7 linked regions of the Homo sapiens genome follow. The protein of the gene in region 3 purifies or fractionates together with the protein of the main gene of each other region. This does not show direct contact. Each region holds a gene or a part of one and is shown on either strand. Other genes may lie near its edges. The genes, in order: C11orf58, UBE3C, PSMB2, PSMF1, RNF138, SULT1A4 and HM13.

Region 1 (3,500 bases), on a different chromosome or scaffold from region 3:
CAGCCTCCCAAGCAGCTGGGATTACAGGTGTGAGCCACCACACCAGGCTAATTTTTTTTTTTTTTTTTTTTTTAGTAGAGACACGGTTTTGCCATGTTGACCAGGCTGGTGATTTGCCTCAAGTGATCGGCCCACCTCAGCCTCCCAAAATGCTGGGATTACAAGCATAAGCCAAGGTGCCCAGCATTTTTTTCTCTCCTTTTTTTTTTTAAATTTAAGAGATGAGGTCTTGCTCTGTAGCCCAGGCTGGAATGCAGTGGTGCAATCATAGCTTCATTGCAGCCTCAAACTCCTGGGCTTAAGTGATCCTCCCACTTTAACCTCCCAAATAACCGGGATTACAGGCATTAAGCCACTGCACCCAGCTCTAATTATAATATTTTAATAATTTACACAATTACATGCCAAAGTAGAATATCCTGAAACATGAACACATACTTCATATTCTGAATTTAGCACTTCCATTTTAATTACACTTTACTTTCTTACCGGTTCGGAAGTGAGATGTTGATTTGTGATCTCCTATAACAAGACGACCAGTATGTTCTTTCTATAAGAAGGTTGAAAATGTATTAGCATTTGAGACCACTAATTTAACCTTATTGGGTATCTACTATGTGCTGAAAACTATTCTAGGCTTCTGGGACACAGTGAAGACAAAAGATTAAATTAGAATCTCTGCCTTTAAGGACCTTACATTCTAGCAAGGGTAGGAATGGGGAAGGGAGACAGGCAAACGTAATCACTATTTATACTATGTTAGAAAGTACTAAGTGTGATTAAAACAAAACAGACCTGAGTAAGGAGTAGAGCAGGTTGGAATTTTAAATAAGATGAATAGATAACTAGAAAATTGAGTCAATCTAAACATTTTCTTTCCTAAAGGCCAGTTAAATGAGTTGCTTTAACTTCCCACCTGCTCTTTCTGCTGCCTCAAGTATATCTCATGGAGAGAAAGCAAATGAGATTTAGCCTGACAAAAATGAAATAATTGAAACTTATAATGTATCATATAAAGTGATAGATCTTATTACAGTATATCACAATCATTAGCTATCTCTTTACTATTTGACAATAAACTACTAATCTCAACTTGTCAAAAAGAACAATTTAAAACAATCCTGTACTCTAAACATAAAAATACATATGATTCAATATTACCAACTGATTAAACTGCATAATTACTCTCAATTTAATCAGTCCAATCCACTCTTTATGGTTCATATTTAGTTTCATAAGTGCTCATTAAAACACCATGTGAAGGTGAGAATAAATGTGACTTTGGAAAGCAATCTTAACCAATCATCTGTGAAGATACAGTAACAAACCTTCCTATTGTGAAAAAATGGCAGATACAGTCTCCATACACAAAAATGATACTACCGAAAAACTTCAAGTGTTAATGCTCATTGCTTTATGTGCCATTAACACATAAGCAAATCAATAATTCAGTGTGTTACTAGTTTAGGTTGCAAAACTGACAGCCATTAACAAGATTTTAATATAACAGCATCAAGTTATTCCAGGATGATGACAGTATTGCACTGATCTATTCATATGTTCTTAGCTGGTTCTTCCTGTGACCAATAAAATATTCATGATAGCCGGCTAGGATTACAAATATACTTTGTGGCCACAAAATGGAATACCTCTAAACACCCCATATGAAGATCAAAGCTACAATCTTGGCCTCACAAAGAATTTAATCTATGGGCCAGGCGCAGTGGCTCATGCCTGTAATCCCAGCACTTTGGGAGGCAAAGGAGGGTGGATCACGAGGTCAGGAGTTCAAACGGTGAAGCCCTGACTCTACTAAAAATACAAAAATTAGCCAGTCATGGTGGCAGGTGCCTGTAATCCCAGCTACTTGGGAGGCTGAGGCAGAGAACTGCTTGAACCCGGGAGGCAGAGGTTGCAGTGAGACTGTCTCAAAACAACAACAACAAAAAAAAGAGAATTTAATCTATGCTGAACAACCTATTTACTAGTTAGTCAACTTCCATATATTTTATATTAGGATGTTCTTCCTAAGTACTTGAATAAGTTTCATTCTACTAAGTTGAATATGGCCCCTAAACTAACACTTACCTTACATATCCTTAACAAATCTTTTAAGTCCTCACTTAATTTTCAATGATAGGTTCTTGGAAACTTCGATTTTAACTGATTTTAGTTGAAACAACCTATAATGAAAACAATTTTCCTCCTTATCAGTGTTACAGTGAAACAACTTTATTGTCAGTTTGCCAAAGGTTAGTTTCCAAGAACCACAAGGGATGTTAAGTGAGGACTTAATATATTTGCATGAAACAAGAGAAATTGCAGACTATTTTCTATGACAAATTACAAATTGGGAAATCTCGATTAATGAGATATTATACAAATGCTTTATTTAAATAGGTCTCAGTGTTTTACATGACCTCTTCCTATCCCCAAACCTACTGTTGTAGTCTGGCTAACTCCTTCTCATCCTTTGAGATTCAGATCAATTCTATTTTGGGGAAGCTTTCTTGCACTGCTAAACCAGAGTTAGCTGCCCTCTGTGATTCCACAGCACTATGTGCATGGCTTTCTCACAGCAATTACAATTCTGTATTGCTATTATCTGGTTTCCTCCATTACATAATAGCTTCAAACATGTATTATTGATCTATATGACCACCCAGGATCCAGCACAGTAGTAGGTAGTCTGTAATTGTTGGGAAAATGAATGAATGTATTCCCATGTGCATAACAAAACAAAGAGCAGAATTTCATTTTAATGTGCTTAAAAAAAGAGAAAAAAAGCTTTCCTATTTCTTTTCAATTTAGTTTGTAGGAAGTCTGTTAGGACAATGTTAGGAAAATAAATTTACTTGCTTACAAAAACTAAGTATCTAGAGATCCCTGTATAAACTGCTAGGATAAAGAAAGGTTTTTACAATAGATATTTTCCTGGCACTTGTTTTATATAGTTGACCCTGAACACAGGATTAAACTGTGTGGATCCACTTATACTTGAATATACTTCTGCCTCTGCCACTCCCAGACAGTAAGACAATCCCTCCTTTTCAGCCCACTCAACATGAAAACTATGAAGATGAAGACCTTTATGATAATCCACTTCCAATTAATGAAGAGTCAATTATTTTCTCTTCCTTATAATTTTCTTGATAACATTTCCTTTTCTTTATTGTAAGAATACAGGATATAATACATTTAACACCCAAAATATGTGTTAACTGATAATTATGTTATCAGTAAGACTTCCAGTCAACAGTAGGCTATTAGTAGTTAAGTTGTTGGGGAGTCAAAAGTTATATGCAAACTTCTGACTGCCTGCAGAACCAGCACCCCTAACCCCCACATTGCTCAAGGGTCAACTGTACCTTCTATTAACGTTAACCAAACTGACAGGCATTTCAAAGTATCTTGAACATTTTTAAAATTAAGGTTTTCTTTCCCCCTGGTGTTCTACACATTCAGAGAAACTTCTCTATCTAGTAACAAACTATAGAAAT
Region 2 (3,500 bases), on a different chromosome or scaffold from region 3:
CACCGTAATAAAAATCATTTAAAAAAGGAAGGGAGGGAGGAATGGCAGAATGAAAGAAGGAGCTTAGGAGAGCCTCAGGCGTGCAGTGTGAGTATCCTCGTGGGTCTGGGGAGGCGCTGCTGACGAAGGAAGCACTGGTTCTCTGTAGGGGTCTGACCCCAGCATCAGCTTCAGCTCAGCTCAAAGCCAGCGGCACATTCAATCGCATAGAGAAGTTTACTTCGCAAAAGTGTCTCGTCATAGAACTCGGGGAGCTTCAGCAGGTTCATGCAGGTGCTGGCTGTGGGGAGCCGCTCAAGGTCGGAGCCTCCGTTGTGAATACAAAATGCGGGATACAACTCCTGAAAAACAGCATGTGTGCAAGATGTCACTGTAACAAGCATGGCATTACATGAGTTTTAATACAAAGTACACAAAATGTGCCTGCTCCAATCAGTAAAGTTACCATTGCAGTCACATTTTCCCGAAACCACATTTGCTTTGTTGTTGTTGTTTGTTTTCTTTGAGATGGAGTCTAGCTCTGTCGCCCAGGCTGGAGGGCAATGGCGCCATCTCAGCTCACTGCAACCTCTGCCTCCCAGGTTCAAGCGATTCTCCTGCCTCAGTCTCCCAAGTAGCTGGGATTACAGGTGCCTGCCACCATGCCTGGCTAATTTTTGGATTTTTCCTAGATAAGGGGTTTCACCACGTTGGCCAGGATGGTCTTGAACTCCTGACTTTGTGATCTGCCCACCTCTGCCTCCCAAAGTGCTGGGATTACAGGCGTGAGCCACCGTGCCTGGCCCACATTTGCTTTTTTAAAAAATTACATTGATGGCTTAGTTCTAACTTACATAAAAGATTATGCACTGTGCTTCAGGCATAAAAAGGGATAAATAACATTCCAGGCCAGGCGCATAGCTCACACCTGTAGTCCCAGCACTTTGGGAGGCCTAGCTGGGGGATGGCTTGAGCTTAGGAGTTCGAGACCAGCCTGGGCAACATAACGAGACCTCATTTCCACTAAAAATAAAAATCAAAACAATTAGCCAGGTGTGGTGGTCTGCCCCTATACTCCCAGCTACTTGGGAGGCTGAGGTGAAAAGATGTCTTGAGCCCAGGAGGTCGAGGTTAGTGAGGTATGATCACACCACTGCACTCCAGCCTGGGCAACACACAGTGAGACCCTGTCTATAAAAATTTTTTAAAAAGGATCAAGATTTATTCTATCTTTCCTGTACAAGCTATTACTCGGGTTAACCAAATCATTGGTGAGAAGAAACAAAGCTGTTTTTAAATAGAAAATTCCAGCTAATAAATTATACAATTATGTAATTAGAACACGGCTGTTTTAGAAGCACATTAAACAATGGATCTAGGCAGTGATAAGTGACCACTAAAATCAAGAGGAATTCTGACGCAGAGATCGATCCCAGCATTGTGGGGAGATGACTCACGAGAAGTGGATCTCCACGATGATTAAGGGAATGGGAAGCATACGACATTACCTATGTGATGTTATTGCCAAAAAAAGAAAAATTCAAATTTAGAATCTGATGAGACCTCTATCAGTTTTCAAGAGATACAAAGAAGCAACCCAGTTACCCTATTATTTTTATTTATTTATTTTTTTGAGACGGAGTCTTGCTCTGTCACCCAGGCTGGAGTGCAGTGGTGCAATCTCGGCTTACTGCAACATCCGCCTCCCGGGTTCACGCCATTCTCCTGCCTCAGCCTCCCGCATAGCTTGGACTACAGGCTCCCGCCACCACGCCCGGCTAATTTTTTGTATTTTTAGTAGAGACGGGGTTTCACCATGTTAGCCAGGATGATCTCGATCTCCTGACCTCGTGATCCACCCGCCTCAGCCTCCCAAAGTGCTGGGATTACAGGCGTGAGCCACCGTGCCCGGCCCCAGTTCCCCTATTCATTAAATTACAAGACGAAATTGAGGGAGGTAGAACATCTATAGACCAAATGCATGATGAAAAGTGGCTTGCTTGTGCCAGAATTTAAATAATTGTTAACAAAAAAGAAAGATGATCAGGGAAATTTGAATATTGTTTTTCAGATGTGTTCATGACGTTCTGGTATTTAAAGGTACAGTGTGAAAATTCTCATCCCTGTATCACAGATACCCAGTTCCCATTCCCACTGGCAACCAACGCTTCAGCGTCTTAAGTGCTCCCAGAGATGAAATGCACGCATGAGAAAATGTTCTCCCTCCTTTAGGTTTAAAATTGAGACGGTGAGCACATTGGACACAGTATTCCGTGCCGTGCTTTTCTCATCTGATAATGGGTCTCGCTCATCTTGCCTATTAATGGTGAGGCTATATGGTGTTCCATGCACACGCGCGGCACGACGTGTTGCTGGGCACTTCTCTCAGCTTTTTACAAAAAATGATGCAATGAATACGTACCTGGTTTTCACAGTTGTGCAAATGTATCTGTAGGCAAAAACCGTGTTAGGGATTGCTCAACGCAGACTTAATGCATGAGACCTATGGGCGTGTCGGTCCTCTGATGGCCACGAAGAACCGGTGACTCCACCTTCCTCGTATACACAAACACCATTAGCTATTTGCCTCACATTTGAGATACGTGATTTATGTGTTCTCTTCCAACAGGAAGACAATAAGGCACAGATCGCCCTCAGTCTGCTCACTGTCGCAGCCTGTGCAGATTTAGTATCTGGCACGGGTTTCAGAGACCTAGCTAGGTCAGCCCTTCCCTGCACACGTGTACACGAAACTCTCTGAGAGGTGGGCCTGGCAGCAGGAGCAGGGGCTTCACCCACATTCACAACTCCTGGGACTGTACTCTAAGAAATAATTAGAGATGCACATGATAATTTATGCACAAGAGGTTCACAGCATCACAACGAAGGAAGAGCTGTAAACAACTAAAAAACAGAAAGTAAACTGGTAAATCACATGATGGGACACTACAAGCCCATTAAAAATATCTCAAAGAATAACATGAGGAAAAATGATCCTGATGTAATGTTGAGTGAAAAAGGTAGCCTAGAAAACTGAACACAAGATACAGCTAAAATTATATTTAAAAATTACGTGACCAGGAGCAGTGGCTCATGACTGTAATCCCAGCATTTTGGGAGGCCACAACGGGTGGATCACCTGAGGTCAGGATTTCTGAGACCAGCCTGACCAACATGGCGAAACCCCATCTCTACTAAAAATAAAAAATTAGCCGGCTGTAGTGGTGCATGCCTGTAATAATTCCAATTACTCGGGAGGCTGAGGCAGGAGGCAGAGGTTGCAGGCTGCAGTGAGACGAGATCACGCATTGCACTCCAGCCTGGGCAATAAGAGTGAAACTCTGTCTTAAAAATATATATGTTTGTGTGTGTGTAACAGGCTGAGCATGTTGGCTCACACCTGTAATACCAGGTGTGTGTGTGTGTGTGTAACAGGCCGAGCATGTTGGCGCACACCTGTAGTACCAGGTGTGTGTGTGTGTGTAACAGGCCGAGCATGTTGGCTCACACCTGTAGTACCA
Region 3 (3,500 bases):
TACTCTAGTGGTAGAGGGTACCCAAACAGCAGCTGGAGGATGACTGGGAGGCAGGGAGGCTGAACTGGGAGGTGCAACTAAGAGCCTGTCTCTGGTCAGTCAGCTGACGAAAGAATGAGACAATCCAGTGTTCTGTTCCCCATAGTCTGTTACCCATCAGTCTGGTAAACACAGACGTCTCTCTTAAAATGTCTCAAGATAATAAGCTAACAAAGAGTGATTGTCCTCAGAACGAAGCAGAGGCCAGGAGCTGTGGCTCAGGCCTGTAATTGGGAGGTTGAGGTGGAAGAATATCTTGAGCCCAGGAGTTCAAGACCAGCCTAGGTAACATAGCAAGACCCCATCTCTTAAAAATAAAATGAGCTGGGCATGGTGGTGCCTGTCTGTAGTCTCAGCTACTTGGGAGGATCGCTTGAGTTCCAGAAATCCAGGCTGCAGTGAGCTATGATGGTGCCACTGCACTCCACTCCAGCCTGGGCAACAAAGTGAGATCCATCTCTTAAAAAAAAAAAAAAAAAGCGGGGGGTGGGGTGGGCACTGTGGACTGAAAACAAAAGGTTTGTGTAAGAAGCAAACTGACATTACTCCCAACGCTCCTGCTCTTATCTTCCTACTCTCTTACTAAACCACGAGGTCAAGTTCATCCTTAAGCCACAGGAACAGTAAAAGAATGAAAAAAACTAATGTGGCTGGTTTTTGACCTCCCCATTCCCCCATTCTCCATCTATACCCAAAGCCTTAGACTCTAAGGAGTAGTGTTAGAAAGGGTGTGTTCTGTAATCCTGTCCTCGCAAGCCAAAGTCTACTCTCCCCTTCTGCCCAAAGCTTCCTAGTTGCTTTCTATGGTCCTCCTGAATTCTTAGGGGAGGCTTTTTCTCACAGATTACAAAGACTCGAGCACTATTAAGGGAGCAGGCAGTATGGCAATTACAGGTGGCACAAGAACAGAGCAGGTATAAAGTCTAGGGCAGGGATGGGCGTGGTGGCTCATGCCTGTAATCCCAGCACTTTGGGAGGCCGAGGCAGGCGGATCACCTGAGGTCAGGAGTTCAAGACCAGCCTGGCCAACATGGTGAAACCCTGTCTCTACTAAAAATACAAAAAACTAGCCGGGCATGGTGGTGGGCAACTGTAATCCCAGCTACTCGGGAGGCTAAGGCAAGAGAATTGCTTGAACCCAGAGGCGGAGGTTGCAGTGAGCTGAAATCGTGCCACTGCACTCCAGCCTGGGCAACAAAAGCGAAACTCCGTCTCAAATAAAAAAATAAAGTCTAGAGCAGAAGTTCTTCAAGTACAGCCTCAGTTACCACCTGTAGGAAAATCACCTGGGACTGCCAGTTAAAGCAGAGCTTCCCAGTTTGTACCTCAGAACAGTGGACTCAGAATTGAGGGTTGGGGCAGAGATGGCAATCTGTTTAACAGGTTTCCCAGGTGATACTTACACACACTAAAATTTGAGAACCACTGGTTTGGATAAACCAGAAAGAATTAAATTATAAAACTGACATTGAGGAGGTAATCTGTGAGAGAAAAGTGAGCTTGCTATCCACACCAAACTCTATCCCTGGTAGCAACTTCACATCTGGTTAGTGGGTATGTATTACACCTTCTGGCAAAAATCTGAAAAAATATAACTGAGGAACAGGAACAACACTGGCAAACAGAGAGACAAACATTCCTTTCAGGATCCTATGGGAACTACTCACCTCCTCCAGACATTTCCTAAGGAGTTCCACTGCCCTCTCACGTGAGATAGCTGAAAGAGAACACAGAGACCAAATACTTCCGGTGCTGTCATTATATCCAACTCTCAGAAGCTTTTGATTAAGTTCCAAATCTGGCTTCTTCAGGTCTCAGTGCCACACAAACGTAAAAGGCAAAAAATGCTTTGCCTTCTAGCCTGCAATCAACTTACTCCACATGCAGCTGGGGGGGCCCCAGACCCAGTGCTCCAGCAGCTATAAGCCATTGCAAATTGATTTGCTACAGTAAAGGGTGAGCATGAAGGAATTCTGCCTCCCCTGGCCAGGGCCCACCTCTGAAGAAGTCCAGCAGCCTGTCTCTCTTTATCATAACCCACCCCTTTCACTCCCCCTTAGTCCAGGGTTTGAATCAATTCCATCTGCCCCAGTCAGCTGCAAATCAGGGAAAGAGACGATGGGGTCAGAATTTCAGCCTTGTTTTCCCAGCTGGGTCTCTGTTTAACAATGGGAAGAGAATTCATAGGATGGGGCTGAGACTCTCCCCAAATAGGAGCCAAAGGAACTGTCTGTGGGCGTGGCAAACTGGGACGACATGTTATGCACTCAGGCTTCAGGGGTGGCTAGTAGTTATTTTGGTGGGCAAATCAGCTGTATTACTGACAGATGCCAAATCAAGAAAGTCACTGGGAGGCCAGGCTAATTCTTTTCAGGATGTGGCCTGGAGCTCTAGCGTGGCTAAGGTTGAGCGAGAGGGCAGCACCAAAAAAGAATGAACATGCCAGATTCTTACGATACTGACAGTGAAGAATGGAATGTAAGGAGAGAAGTGGTTATCTGTGCTTCATCTATAGTCTGTAAAAGCTAAGAATTCCAAAGTACCCACTGCCCACAGAGGCTAAAGTCGAGGTTAGGACTGGGGTCAGAAGATGGAACTTAGCACAAAAGCATCCCTGTGTCTAGGAAGTCCTAACCAGAGCACTTAGGCAAGGGGAGGAAATAGAGTACCCCAATTGGAAAGCAGGAAGTCAAATGTCCCTATTTGCAGATGACATGATCTTCTATATAGAAAAACCTAAAGACCCCACCAGAAAACTCTCACATCTGATAAATGAATTCCATAAAGTTGCAGGATACAAAATTAATATACAAAAATCAGTATTTCTATACACAAACTAGCTGAAAAAGAAATCAAGAAGGCAATCCCATTTACAATAGACACAAAAATCAAAGAAAATAAAATACCTAGGAATAAATTTAACCAAGGAGATGAAAGACCTCTATAACGAAAACTATAAAACACTGATGAAATAAGCTGAAGAGGATACAAGCGAATGGAAATACATCTCATGCTCATGGATCAGAAGAATTAATATTATGAAGATGACAACACTACCCAAAGAAATTTATATATTCAATGCAATCCCTATCAAAATGCCAATGACATGCCTCACAGAATTATGGAAAAAAATCCTAAGATTTGTAAGGAACCACAAAAGACTCTGAATAGCTAAAGCAATCCTGAACAAAAAGAACAAATCTGGTAGTTGATACCACTACCAGACTTCAAAATATATCACAAAGTTGTAGTAACCAAAACAGTATGCTACTGGCATAAAAATAGACACATAGACCAATTAAACAGAATAGAGAAATTAAGAAATTAAGCCACATATCTACATTTGACTTTTGATGAAGGTACCAAGAACACTCATTGGGGAAAGGACAGTCTGTCTCTTCAATAAATGGTGCTAGAAAAACTGGATATCCATACACAGAAGAATGAAACCAGACCCTCAC
Region 4 (3,500 bases), on a different chromosome or scaffold from region 3:
TTTTCCATTGATCTCTATGTCTCTTCCTCTGTCAATATTACTCTATCAGTATTGATTATTGTAGGCCTTAATATTGAGTAGAATAATTCCTCCCACTTTTTCTTCGTCAAGGTAGTTGTAGCTATTCTAGGTTCTGTGCCTTTTCTTTTTTTTCTTTTTTCTTTCTTTTTTTTTTTCTTTGTTTGAGACAGAGTCTCACTGTGTCTCAAAAAGGCTCAGGCTGGAGTGCAGTGGTGTGATCTTGGCTCACTTCAACCTCTGCCTCCGGGGTTCAAGTGATTCTCCTGCCTCAACCTTCTGAGTAGCTGGGACTACAGATGCGTGCCACCATGCCTGGCTAATTTTTTGTATTTTTAGTAGAGACGGGGTTTTACCATGTTAGCCAGGATGGTCTCGATCTCCTGACCTCGTGACCCACCCATCTTAGCCTCCCAAAGTGCTGGGATTACAGACGTGAGCCACCGCACCTGGCCTCTGTGCCTTTTCATATAAACTTTAGAGTAAGCTTGTGTATATCTATGAAAAACCTTGCTAGGATTTTGATAGGAGTTGCATTAAACCTATAGATTAGTTTGGGGAGAATTGACATTCTTGCTATGAACATGATATATCTTATCTCTCCATTTATTAATATTTAGGTTTTATTTGATTTCCATCAGTATCATTTGTAATTTTCAACATATAGATCCTGTACATAGCTTGTTATTTGTTTAAAGCAGAAAGGGAGATGATTATGAATGGCATATTCTGTCCTTTGTTTTGGTTTTCAAATGTTCATTGTTAGTGTGTAGAAATGTAGTTGATTTTCCTGTGTTGAACTCTTCTATCCTGTCACCTTGCTGAATTCAAGGTGTTTAGGGTTTTTTTGTTTTTTTTTTTTTTTGGTAGATTCCTTGGGAATTTCAGGGTAGACTATCATGTCATTTGCAAATAGGGACAGTTTTATTCCTTACTTGCTAATATGAATGCCTTTTGTTTTTCTTGCCTTATTGCAGTGGTCAGGATGTCCAATATTATGTTAAATAAGAGTGATGAGAAAGAATATGCTTTCCTCGTTCCCAATCTTAGGAGCAAAGCATTCAGTCTTTCACAGTAAAGTATATTGTTAGGGGTAGGTTTTTTGTAAATGTTCTTTATCAGGTTAAAGAAGTTCCCCTTTATTCTTAGTTTGTTGAGAGTTTTTAATCTTGAATGGATTTATCATGTTGGATTTTGTCAAAAGCTTTTTTCTGTATCAATTGATATGATCATATGATTTTTCTTCCATAGCTTATTGATATGGTAGATTACGTTGATTGATTTGTGACTATTAACCAGTCTTGCATGCCTAGAACAAATCATACTTGGTCATGGCATATAGTTCTTTTTATACATTTTTAAATTCAATTTGCTCATATTTTGTTGAGGATTTTTTTTGTGTGTAAGTTCATAGGATATACTAGTCTATATATGTGTATATATATATATATTTTTTTTTTTTTTTTGGTGTAGTCTTTGCCTGGTTTTGATACCAGAGTAATACTGGTCTCATGAAATGGATTGGAACGTATTCCCTCCTCATATATTTTCTAGAAGTGACTGTAAAATTGGTGTTAATTCTTCTTTGAATGTTTGGTAGAATTCTTCCTGAAATCATCTGAGCCTGGAGATTTTTGGTTTTTGTTTTTTTATTTTATTTTTTTAGAATGTTAAGTGTAATTCAGTTTCTTTAATGGAACTATTCAGATTATCTATTTCATTTTGGCTGAGTTGTAGTTTATGGTTTTTAAGAATTGGTCTATTCTGAGTTGTTGGATTAAGTTGTTCTTAGTATTCTCTTATTATCCTTTCAGTGGCTACAGATCTATTGTAATATCTCCTGTTTCGTTCTTGTTATTGGTGACTGTGTCCTCTCTTTGTATTTGTCAGTCTCGCCAGGAGTTGGTCAGTTTTATTCTTTTTTTTTGAAGAATTGACTTTGTTTCATTTTCTCTCTTGTTTTTCTTTTTTATTGACTTCTGTTCTTACCTTTATTACTTCTGCTTGCTTTGAGTTAATTTGCTCTTCTTTTTCTAGGTTCTTTAGGTCAGAATTTTGGTTATTGATTTGAATTCCTTCCTCTATTTTGATGTAAGCATTTAGTGCTATGAGGTTTCTTCTCAGCAATCCTTTAGTTATATCCCACATATTTTCGTATGTTTTTATTTTCATTTTAATTCAGTGCTATATATTTCTTTTTTGTGACTTTGATCCAAGGATTTTCTAGAAGTATGTTGCTTAATTTTCATGTATTTAGAGAGTTAACTTTTTGTTTTGATTTCTGTTATGATTCCATATGGTTGGAGAACATACTTTATATGATTTCAGTTATTTTACATTTGTGAGCTTTGCTTTATGGGCCAGGATGTGGTTCATTTTAAAATACCAGTGTTTTAGGAAGCCTGGAGTCCTGCCCACTCTGTTACCTCAGCCTGCCTCCACACCTCAGCTGTGGCTCACGTCACTTGTCTCTCACAGGCATAGAAAAAGAGGCCCAGGCAGGATGGGACAGGTGGTAGGGGCAGCCTTCCGAGGACCCCTGAGTTAGTGACAGAACTGGACCTTGAACCCCCAGAGCTCTGCCTGCCTGGAACAGGAACCTGGTTCATCCTCCCCATGGAGCCTTTGCCTTCCATGACCCTTCCCATGACACGTGATGAACACACAATGAAGCTGAGGGAGGGGTGAGGCGGGTGAGGACAGAGGAGTAGCCAATCCAGGCCCTGTGCCCCTACACCCTCACCTCTTTCTAATGGGGTGGTAAACAAGGAGGGGCAACTCAGATGCCTAAGAAGCTTGGGCCCAAATCTCAGAGACAGCGTGGGGCTGTTGCCCCCCTCACCCAGGTCCAGCAGGCGGCCTGTTCCCCCACTTATAAACAGGCCAAGCGCAATGCCAGGAGCTATCAGGGCCGCCGCCGCCGCCGTCGTTGCAGCCAGAATACCACTTCCAGGGTTCCTAGCCAACTGCAAGCAGTTGACTCTTCATCTGCTTCCTGCAGGACCTACAAGAACAGTGAGGAGCTTCGGTCTCGTATTGTGTCTGGAATCATCACACCTATCCATGAGCAGTGGGAAAAGGCTAATGTAAGCAGTCCCCACCGGGAGTTCCCCCCTGCTACCGCCAGAGAGGTGGACCCACTCCGGATTCCTCCACACCACCCACACACCAGTCGGCAGCCTCCCTGGTGAGTACAGAGTGCCTAGCGGGAAGCCCATGCTTCTGTAGAGGGATTCCAGCCAGCTATCCCCATCCTGCCACTTGACCCCATCCCTGGCCCGTATGTGTTTTCAACAAAATGATCAGTGTCTTGGGGTGCATGGAGTTAGAAAGTGGAGACGTAAGTGGAGCAGTGAGTTCTTGAACTGCTACTAGTCACCCTAATTACCCAAAATCCTAAGCCTGCCTGATTTCTTTCTAGGGGCCACACAGAGCCCCTGAGTCTGTCCAAGGATCAGTGCCTCTGGGGCTTATGTGCAGTA
Region 5 (3,500 bases), on a different chromosome or scaffold from region 3:
GGAAAAATGCATGCAGCCTTGCTAGCAACTAAAGAAATACATTTTAATGTGACTTCTAGACACCACTATGAACTGTATTAAAATAGCATAAAAATGCTTAAAAAAACAAAATTGGCAAAGATGATGGATTACAAATATACTTTTATAGTACTAATGGCATTTTGTAAATTAGCTCAATTTTTGGGAAAGCAACATGACATTTATGAAAATAGCAGTTAACACTTATTGCGTACATAATATGTGCTAGGTGCTAGGCTGGATCCCAGAAACTATCCATTCATGATCTTGAATTCTTAAAAAAAAATAAATTTTTCTTAATAAGTTCCTTCATTTTACAGATGAGGAAACTAAGGCTTAAAAAAATAAAATGTTAATAAACCTGTAAGAGTGAGGCAGGCAAATCACTTGAGGTCAGGAGTTCAAGACCAATCTGGCCAACATGGTGAAACCCTGACTCTAATTTAAAAATATATATATATACACAAAAATTAGCCAGGAGTGGTGGTGCACGCCTGTAATCCCAGCTACTCAGAAGACTGAGGTAGAAGAATGGCTTGAACCTAGGAGGCGGAGGTTACAGTGAGCCAAGACTGCGTGTGCCACTGCACTCCAGCCTGGACAACAGAGCCAGACTCTGTCTTTGAAAAAAAAAAAAAAAAGAAACCTATAAGAGGTTGAAGCCCAGAAGATGTTTCTGTCATTCAAATACAAAGCCCTGCATGTTCCCTCCTACCTCGGGACCTTTGTCCAGAATGTTTCTTCTCCCCAGAATGTTCTATGCACGAGCACAGCCCTCCACAAATTAATACCTATATCTCTCTTAGATATCAGCAACAATATCACTTCCTAAAGAAAGGGTCATCGATACTCACCCACTAGATCTGATCCCTCTCTTATACTCTCTCGAAACCTATACATTTGTAATTACACCATTTTTCTGAGCATTTATTTTAATTTAAATATATCTCAGGCCAGGCGCAGTGGCTCAGGCCTGTGATCCCAGCACTCTGGGAGGCCAAGGCGAGCAGATCGCTTGAGCTCAGGCATTCGAGACCAGCCCGGCCAACATGGTGAAACCCAGTCTATACAAAAAATACAGGCCGGGCGCGGGGGCTCACGCCTGTAATCCCAACACTTTGGTAGGCCGAGGTGGGTGGATCACCTGAGGTTGGGAGTTCGAGACCAGCCTGACCAACATGGTGAAACCCCCGTCTCTATTAAAAATACAAAATTAGCCAGGCCTGGTGGCGCATGCCTTTAATCCCAGCTACTTGGGAGGCTGAGGCAGGAAAATCGCTTAAACCCGGGAGACGGAGGTTGCAGTGAGCCGAGATCGCGCCATTGCACTCCAGCCTGGCCAACAAGAGCAAAACTCCGTCTCAAAAAAAAAAAAAAAAAAAAAAAAGTTAGTTGGGTGTGGTGGTGGCACATGCCTGTAGTCCCAGCTACTGGGAAGGCTAAAGGGGGATTACTTGAGCCCAGAGAGGTCAAGGCTGCAGTGAGCCATGATCATGCCACTGCACTCTAGCCTGGGCAACAGAGCAACAGAGAAAGACCCTGTCTCAAATATATATATAAAATAATAAAATAGAGGTATTCAGGTCTCTTATGTCCAATTTTACTGTTCCTTCCCCTGTACAACCAAAGATTTTATATATATATATATATATATCTCAATCACTAACACCCAGCTCCAAGAGGGCAGGGATCCTATCTATTTGCTCTTTACAATATCCCTGGCACCTAACAGTGCTAGGCACCTATTAGGCAGTCCTAATATTTGCTAAAGCAATGAATGCCAATTTACCTTAATTTAAAAAGTATTAAATCCCTTAACCAAAAGATATAATTGACAGTTCTCAAATCAAAACCTTGAGCACTTTCCATGAACAAGACACTTCACTAGAGCTGCAATTATTCTTGTGTGATGTATCAGAAATATTTGTTTGTATCTACCCTTTGACCCAGCAATTCCATTTGTCAGAATTTAGCTGGCAGGAAAAACTCTCATATGTGAAACGATATATTAGTAGGCTTAAGTAAGTAACAGGAGATCTTGGATGCTTTCTTTATAAAGCTTGCAGCCTAACCAGTGAAACTGACATTGGTCAAATTATCTGATTCCAAAAATGTTATGATTACAAACTGTGATAACAGGTACAAAGAATGGCCGGGTGCAGTGGCTCACACCTGTAATCCTAGCACTTTGGGAGGCCGAGGCGGGGCAGATCATTTGGGGTCAGGAGTTGGAGACCAGCCTGACCAACATGGTGCAACACCATCTCTACTAAAAATACAAAAAAATTAGCCGGGTATAGTGGTGCATGCCTGTAGTTCCAGCTACACGGGAGATTGGGGCAGGAGAATCTCTTGAACCCAATGGGTGGAGGTTGCGGTGAGCCAAGACTGCACCACTGCACTCCAGTCTGGGCAACAGAGCGAGATTTTGTCTAAAAATAAAATAAAATAGAGATATTCAGGTCTCTTATCTCCAATTTTACTGTTCCTTCCTCTGTACAACCAAGCATGTTTCTTCAGACATAAAACGAATTATTCTCATCTCACTTTGGGCTGGAATGGATCAAAGTGCTAGACAGAACTTATTTCAAAACAAAGCAGAAGTAGGAAGGAAAAAGGTACAAATCAAGAATTACTAAAACTAATTTTCATGTTCCTGAAAAGGCCCGTATCTTCAGAACAGGGCATTACCCTATAACCAAAAAAGGTCTCTTTACATTTCTCTCAACTTTAAACTAGCAGATGCTAGACGAATTTCCATTACGCATTCTCCCAACAAAAGGCTAATCAACAACACTGGGAGAGGAAAAACAATATTCCCACTCATCATGCTCCCAATTTCAGTATAAATTAAATAATTTAAAATCTGGCACTTAGTCTATCTATTTTCCGAGTCGATAATCGAGATCATTCCCCAAAAAAACTTCAAAAAAAAAAAAAATCAAAGGTTGTAAACTAGTCCTCAAGATTTAAAATTAAGTAAATCTTTTTTTTTTTTTTTTTGAAACGGAGTCTCACTCTGTCGCCCGGGCTGGAGTGCAGTGGCACCATCTCAGCTCACTGCAAGCTCCACCTCCCGGGTTCATGCCATTCTCCTGCCTCAGCCTCCCGAACAGCTGGGATTACAGGCGCCTGCCGCCACACCCGGCTAATTTTTTTGTATTTTTAGTAGAGACAGGGTTTCACTGTGTTAGCCAGGATGGTCTCGATCTCCTGACCTTGTGATCCGCCTGCCTCGGCCTCCCAAAGTGCTGGGATGACAGGCGTGAGCCACTGCGCCCGGCCTCAACCTTTATTATATAATTAAATAGCACAGATTTTAGGAAAGAAGAAAATTATTTTAAAGTATATACTTAGAGCATAACTACTCAAGTAACAAGATACCAATAAAGCTGTTAAAATTACAAAGCCAGGTGCTGTGGCACTCACCTGTAGTCCCCACTACTCAGGAGGCTCAGGTGGGAGGACTGCTTGAGACCAGG
Region 6 (2,554 bases), on a different chromosome or scaffold from region 3:
ATTAGAGGCATGAGCCACCACGCCCAGCCTTCATCACATCTTGAGAGAGGACACTGTCTGCCTCTTGCTCTGATGAGGGTCTGATGCAAGGATAGTGAGTCTCTACAGTGCACACTTAAGAAAGGCAGCATGTGGGTGCTCACAGGTCAGCGGAGGAGGGGGAGCTGGTGGGGACCAGGCATGCCTTGCTCCAGATCAGGATATGATGGCATTGGTGCAGATTATATTAGTATAGAATATGGTCTCAGGAACCAGGCAGGACTTTGGCTTCCGAGCAGGGTTCAGATCCCAGCTTGGCCCTACCTGTGCAGTGAGATCTCAAGCAAGTCAGCCTCTAAGCCTCAGGTTCCTCCTTTGCCAGTTCAACAGATGAGCTGGCCTGGGGTGGGCTGTGTGGTGATGGTGCTGGGGCTGGGTCCTCTGCCCCTGCAGGTGGTCTATGTTGCCCGAAACCCAAAGGACGTGGCGGTCTCCTACTACCATTTCCACCGTATGGAAAAGGCGCACCCTGAGCCTGGGACCTGGGACAGCTTCCTGGAAAAGTTCATGGCTGGAGAAGGTGGGCTTGACTGGAGGAAGGAGGGTGTGAAGCCGAGGGGTGGTGGCTATAACGTACAGCAACCCTGTGTCGGTGCCCCCTGCCCGCTTCTCTAGTGTCCTACGGGTCCTGGTACCAGCACGTGCAGGAGTGGTGGGAGCTGAGCCGCACCCACCCTGTTCTCTACCTCTTCTATGAAGACATGAAGGAGGTGAGACCGACTGTGATGCTTCCCCCCATGTGACACCTGGGGGCAGGCACCTCACAGGGACCCACCAAGGCCACCCAGCCCCGTCCCTGGGCGGCTCCCACAGCAAGCCCGGATTCCCCATCCTACCTCCCTGGCCCAGGCCCCCCCACTGCAGCCCCACCTGGCAGCAGGCTCGGCACAGCTTTCATCTTCTGCACCTGAGTCAGCTGCATGGGTGGCCACGGATCAGATACTTAGTCCTATTGCTTATCCTCACCAAAGGGTGTGCCACCCAGGGCCACAGTCATGGAAGAAGACCATCCCGGTCCTCACCCATAGGCGCCAAGCCCTGTTCATGATGGGATCACAGGGCAGAGATCAATTCATTTTACTCCAGAGACTAGGGCCCCAGGGGTTGAGGCTCTTTGGGGTTTCTAGGGGAAGTGGCCAGATCCCCTCTGAGGTTAGAGAGGGGGACCCGTTTTGTTTTGCTCCACTGAGGAGCCCTCTGCTGCTCAGAACCCCAAAAGGGAGATTCAAAAGATCCTGGAGTTTGTGGGGCGCTCCCTGCCAGAGGAGACCATGGACTTCATGGTTCAGCACACGTCGTTCAAGGAGATGAAGAAGAACCCTATGACCAACTACACCACCGTCCCCCAGGAGCTCATGGACCACAGCATCTCCCCCTTCATGAGGAAAGGTGGGTGCTGGCCAGCACGGGGGTTTGGGGCGGGTGGGAGCAGCAGCTGCAGCCTCCCCATAGGCACTTGGGGCCTCCCCTGGGATGAGACTCCAGCTTTGCTCCCTGCCTTCCTCCCCCAGGCATGGCTGGGGACTGGAAGACCACCTTCACCGTGGCGCAGAATGAGCGCTTCGATGCGGACTATGCGGAGAAGATGGCAGGCTGCAGCCTCAGCTTCCGCTCTGAGCTGTGAGAGGGGCTCCTGGAGTCACTGCAGAGGGAGTGTGCGAATCTACCCTGACCAATGGGCTCAAGAATAAAGTATGATTTTTGAGTCAGGCACAGTGGCTCATGTCTGCAATCCCAGCGATTTGGGAGGTTGAGCTGGTAGGATCACAATAGGCCACGAATTTGAGACCAGCCTGGTAAAATAGTGAGACCTCATCTCTACAAAGATGTAAAAAAATTAGCCACATGTGCTGGCACTTACCTGTAGTCCCAGCTACTTGGGAAGCAGAGGCTGGAGGATCATTTCAGCCCAGGAGGTTGTGGATACAGTGAGTTATGACATGCCCATTCACTACAGCCTGGATGACAAGCAAGACCCTCCCTCCAAAGAAAATAAAGCTCAAAATAAAATATGATTTGTGTTCATGTAGAGCCTGTATTGGAAAGGAAGAGAAACTCTGAGCTGAAAGAGTGAATGCCCGGTGGGGCCACATATGGTCACCTCTCCCCCAGCCTTCAGCTCCCCAGGTCACCATATCTGGGGAGGGGAGAAGGGTTTGGAGAAGTAAAACCCAGGAGATGTGTGGAGGGGGGATGTCTGTTTAATCCCAGCACATCCTCTGCTGTCCTGCCCCAAGATGGTGGAGGACGTCGAGTCCGCCGGGCAGCGTCACTTTTTCTTGGGCTCCTTAGAAGCTACCAGGTACCTCTGGGCCACACTGAGATGAGGGGAGTAGCCGTCTGCATAGGAGGTGTCTTCAAACAGGATAGAATAGTCCTCCTGGGGCTGTGGGGCAGGTGGACAGGAAGGGCAGAGAGCAGCCCCGGGGCTGGTGTCACTCACTTGTTGGTGGCATGGCTGTAACTGACCACCTCGGCCAGGATCCACTGCTCATCCCCATCCACGGCCTTCACC
Region 7 (3,500 bases), on a different chromosome or scaffold from region 3:
AAGCAATTCCATCTGTGGGAATTCTCCCTACAGATATAGTTCATAAATAAGTAAAATGCTACACATAAAGTGTATCCAAGGTATTCCTTGCTCTGTTAACGGCTTGCTGAGTGACTGGGTTTACTTCTCTGTCAAACAGGAGGACAATCTCTAGCCTCACTTCAAAAAAGGTCCAAGAGCCTTCTTTTTTTTTTAAAGAAAAGTGACAGGGTCTCTCTCTGTTGCCCAAGCTGGAGTGCAGTGGCAGGATCATAGCTCACTGCAGCCTTGAACTCCTGGCATCAAGTGATCCTCCTGCCTTGGCCTCCCAAAATGCTGAGATTATAGGCGTGAACCACCACACCCAGCCCCATAGGAGTCTTAAAGCAAATAAGATATGGGATGCGAAACAGCCTGGCAAACTAAAGTACTGTGCCTGTATTGGGGGTTGTGACTATCAGGGAGAGGTGAGTGAGGAGGCCCCTAACCACACCCTTGCCTATGCATGGCTGAGGCAGCCCAGGCTCTGGGCTGGAAGGGAGACCCTCCCCTCTGGAGCCACTGGAGGCAGCTCCATGTGAGTCACTTGGACAGCTTTGCTAGGAGGTGGGAGTGGGGTGGGTGAACAATACCCACATGAGAGGCCCAGTTTCCTTCCTTCCCTATTCTCTCCCAACCCTTGGCTTCTGCTTTTGCCAGCAGTGTGCTGTGGGACTTGGGCAAGTTCCTCATCCCCTCTGAGCATCTCCACACATTCAATACATTTCCTGTGTAGCAGTAGTATGGGTACAAAAATGAGTTCCTGATCTTGAAACACTCACAGGCAGGTAGGTTAATACTGTGACATGATACATATTACAGGGAACACGTATTCTATTTTATGGAATGCACAGCAAAACTGGCTGGGCGTGGTGGCTCATGCCTGTAATCCCAGCACTTTGGGAGATGGAGGCGGGCGGATCACCTGAGGTCAGGATTTCGAGATCAGCCTGGCCAACATGGTGAAACCTTGTCTCTACTAAAAATACAAAAATTAGCTGGGCGTGCTGGTGTGCATCTGTAATCCCAGCTACTTGGGAGGCTGAGGGAGGAGAATAGCTTGAACCTGGGAGGTGGAGGTTGCAGTGAGCCGAGACTGAGCCACTGAACTCCAGCCTGGGTGGACAGCGAGACTCTGTCTCAAAAAAAAAAAAAGACCAGCCTGGCCAACATGGTGAAACCCCGTCTCTACTAAAAATACAAAAATTAGCCGGGTGTGATATTGTGCGCCTATGGTCCCAGCTACTCAGGAGGTTGAGGCAGGAGAATTGCTTGAACCCGGGAGGTGGAGGCCGTAGTGAGTGGGGATCGTGCCACTGAACTCCAGCCTCGGCAACAGAGCGAGACTCTGTCTCATAAAAAAAAAAAAGCCCCCCTCCCAAAAAAAACCCCAAACAGGCTATTATAATGTAGTGTGACACATGATGCAATAGACATGTATATCACTGTGACACACAGTATGAACATCAGCAGTTATGAAGGGACTCTGAGATCAGGAAGTCCATTTGGACTCCCAGCTCTACTTCCCAGCTGTGGGACCTTGGGAAAGTGATTTTTTTTTTCTCTAAGCCTCAATTTCCTCAGCTGTAAAACAAGTTGTGAGGATTCTGATTTCTGCTTTGGAAGTACTCAGCATTGTATCTCGAGTCATCATTTAAACCGTATACACCATTTGTATCATTATTATGCAAAACGGAATCACGACACAGCCAACAAGACACTATTTCTGCAGAGAAGTAAGGGAGTCAGAGGTGGCAAGAGCAGGTACCACTTAAGCAAGGCCTTGATGGTCAAGCACAGTGTCTGGTAGTCTGGAGCCAGACAAATGCTGACTGGGTTTAGGAGTCAGCTTGTCAGTTTTTTTTTTTTGTTTTTTTTTAGTGGAGTTTTGCTCTTTTTGCACAGGCTGGAGTGCAATGGCACAATCTCAGCTCACTACAAATCAAGTGATTCTCTGCCTCGGCCTCCTGAGTAGCTGGGATTATAGGCACCTGCCACCACACCCAGCTAATTTTGTATTTTTAGTAGAGATGGGGTTTCACCATGTTGGCCAGGCTGGTCTCAAACTCCTGACCTCAGATGATCTGCCTGCCTTGGCCTCCCAAAGTGCTGGGATTACAGGTGTGAGCCACCATGCCCGGCTTGAGGAGTGTGCTTTGTGTACAAGGAAAGGAAGTGCTTATCAGGCAGAAAGATATGCACATGCAGAGGCTCAGGGCTGTCAAAGGACACGCAGGACTCTGTGGCTTCACCTACAAACCAGCATTATGGCTCATTTCCACATATTCCTTTCAATTCAGCTCAGCACCCTGGGTGGGAAGAGGCCTAATCTTATTCAGTGACAAACCAAGGTTGGACAGATCCTCTCCATTACACAGAGGACTCTGGTCTCCTTTGCGGGTGACTTATAAATATCCCATGCTGCAATGCTGAGTCAGAATGGGAGACTGGACTGTAATCCCAGCACTTTGGGAGGTCAAGGTGGGCAGATCGGTTGAGCCCAGGAGTTTGAGACCAGCATGGGCAACATGGAGATACTCTGCCTCCATTAAAAAAAAAAAAAAAAAAAGAATGGGAGACCTGAAATCTGACGATAATAGTAATAACAATAACATTACTGCACTGTTCTAGGTACTTTACATGTTTTCATCCTCACAAAAACCCCACAAAGCAGGTACTTTTTTTTTTTTTTTTTGAGATGGAGTCTCGCTCTGTTGCCCAGGCTGGAATGCAGTGGTGCAATCTTGGCTCACTGCAACCTCCGCCTCTTGGGTTCAAGCAATTCTCATGTCTCAGCCTCCCGAGTAGCTGGGACTACAGGCATGTACCACCACGCCCAGCTAATTTTTTGTATTTTTAGTAGAGACAGGGTTTCACCATGTTAGTCAGGATGGTCTGTCACAAGATCCTGACCTTGTGATCTGCCTGCCTTGGCCTCCCGAAGTGCTGGGATTACAGGCGTGAGCCATCACGCCTGGCCAGCAGGTACTTTTAATAGCTCTTTTACAGATGAGGAAGCGGAGGTCTAGAGAGGTGAAGTAACTTGCTTAGTGTCACACAGCTGGTGAGTGGCAGAGCCAGGACTGAAACTGAGGCAGTCCAGTTCCAGACCCCAAACTCTTGGGAGCTGTTTCCTAGAAGATTTCTATCTTTCCTATCTGGAAATTTCGGTTGGAAAGTTTTAACAGGAAGATACTTGGGAAGCCTGCAACCTTTCTGAGGAACAGAATCCTGAAGGTAACTGAACAGCTAATCTTTGTAGTTACAAAAATACTAAAAAGTTGCTAGGATTCTTTACCAATCCAATTGCGATTTTTTAACCAGATTTGTGTATGTAAATACAATAGATCCTGCAACATAAAACACAATTAGAAAGTGGGGGAAAAACCTGACACAAACAGCAGAAGTAAATGTAGCTTCCAGTGACATTCTGGATGTTGTTATCAGAGCGGAAACAAAAGCTGTAAGAGAGGACAGATGCC

The links.
Region 1: the proteins of PSMB2 (region 3) and C11orf58 fractionate together in Homo sapiens (co-fractionation; one large-scale study listed by BioGRID). This does not show direct contact.
Region 2: the proteins of PSMB2 (region 3) and UBE3C purify together in Homo sapiens (affinity purification with mass spectrometry; one large-scale study listed by BioGRID and IntAct). This does not show direct contact.
Region 4: the proteins of PSMB2 (region 3) and PSMF1 purify together in Homo sapiens (affinity purification with mass spectrometry; 2 studies listed by BioGRID and IntAct, with this or other methods). This does not show direct contact.
Region 5: the proteins of PSMB2 (region 3) and RNF138 purify together in Homo sapiens (affinity purification with mass spectrometry, with the first as the bait; one large-scale study listed by BioGRID). This does not show direct contact.
Region 6: the proteins of PSMB2 (region 3) and SULT1A4 fractionate together in Homo sapiens (co-fractionation; one large-scale study listed by BioGRID). This does not show direct contact.
Region 7: the proteins of PSMB2 (region 3) and HM13 purify together in Homo sapiens (affinity purification with mass spectrometry, with the first as the bait; one large-scale study listed by BioGRID). This does not show direct contact.

What each region holds. Positions count from the first base shown.
Region 1 is NC_000011.10:16,745,147-16,748,646, reverse strand, and holds part of C11orf58 (small acidic protein), read right to left. Parts: intron 551-3,500; coding exon 490-550; intron 1-489.
Region 2 is NC_000007.14:157,264,426-157,267,925, reverse strand, and holds part of UBE3C (ubiquitin-protein ligase E3C), read right to left. Parts: intron 342-3,500; coding exon 171-341; 3' UTR 1-170. UniProt on the Homo sapiens protein: E3 ubiquitin-protein ligase that specifically catalyzes 'Lys-29'- and 'Lys-48'-linked polyubiquitin chains.
Region 3 is NC_000001.11:35,603,527-35,607,026, forward strand, and holds part of PSMB2 (proteasome subunit beta type-2), read right to left. Parts: intron 1,757-3,500; coding exon 1,707-1,756; intron 1-1,706. UniProt on the Homo sapiens protein: Non-catalytic component of the 20S core proteasome complex involved in the proteolytic degradation of most intracellular proteins. This complex plays numerous essential roles within the cell by associating with different regulatory particles.
Region 4 is NC_000020.11:1,132,102-1,135,601, forward strand, and holds part of PSMF1 (proteasome inhibitor PI31 subunit), read left to right. Parts: intron 1-3,019; coding exon 3,020-3,205; intron 3,206-3,500. UniProt on the Homo sapiens protein: Plays an important role in control of proteasome function. Inhibits the hydrolysis of protein and peptide substrates by the 20S proteasome. Also inhibits the activation of the proteasome by the proteasome regulatory proteins PA700 and PA28.
Region 5 is NC_000018.10:32,098,374-32,101,873, reverse strand, and holds part of RNF138 (E3 ubiquitin-protein ligase RNF138), read right to left. Parts: intron 1-3,500. UniProt on the Homo sapiens protein: E3 ubiquitin-protein ligase involved in DNA damage response by promoting DNA resection and homologous recombination.
Region 6 is NC_000016.10:29,462,913-29,465,466, forward strand, and holds the end of SULT1A4 (sulfotransferase 1A4), read left to right. Parts: intron 1-432; coding exon 433-559; intron 560-654; coding exon 655-749; intron 750-1,247; coding exon 1,248-1,428; intron 1,429-1,550; coding exon 1,551-1,663; 3' UTR 1,664-2,054; downstream 2,055-2,554. UniProt on the Homo sapiens protein: Sulfotransferase that utilizes 3'-phospho-5'-adenylyl sulfate (PAPS) as sulfonate donor to catalyze the sulfate conjugation of phenolic monoamines (neurotransmitters such as dopamine, (R)-adrenaline/epinephrine, (R)-noradrenaline/norepinephrine and serotonin) and phenolic and catechol drugs.
Region 7 is NC_000020.11:31,520,942-31,524,441, reverse strand, and holds part of HM13 (signal peptide peptidase), read right to left. Parts: intron 1-3,500. UniProt on the Homo sapiens protein: Catalyzes intramembrane proteolysis of signal peptides that have been removed from precursors of secretory and membrane proteins, resulting in the release of the fragment from the ER membrane into the cytoplasm.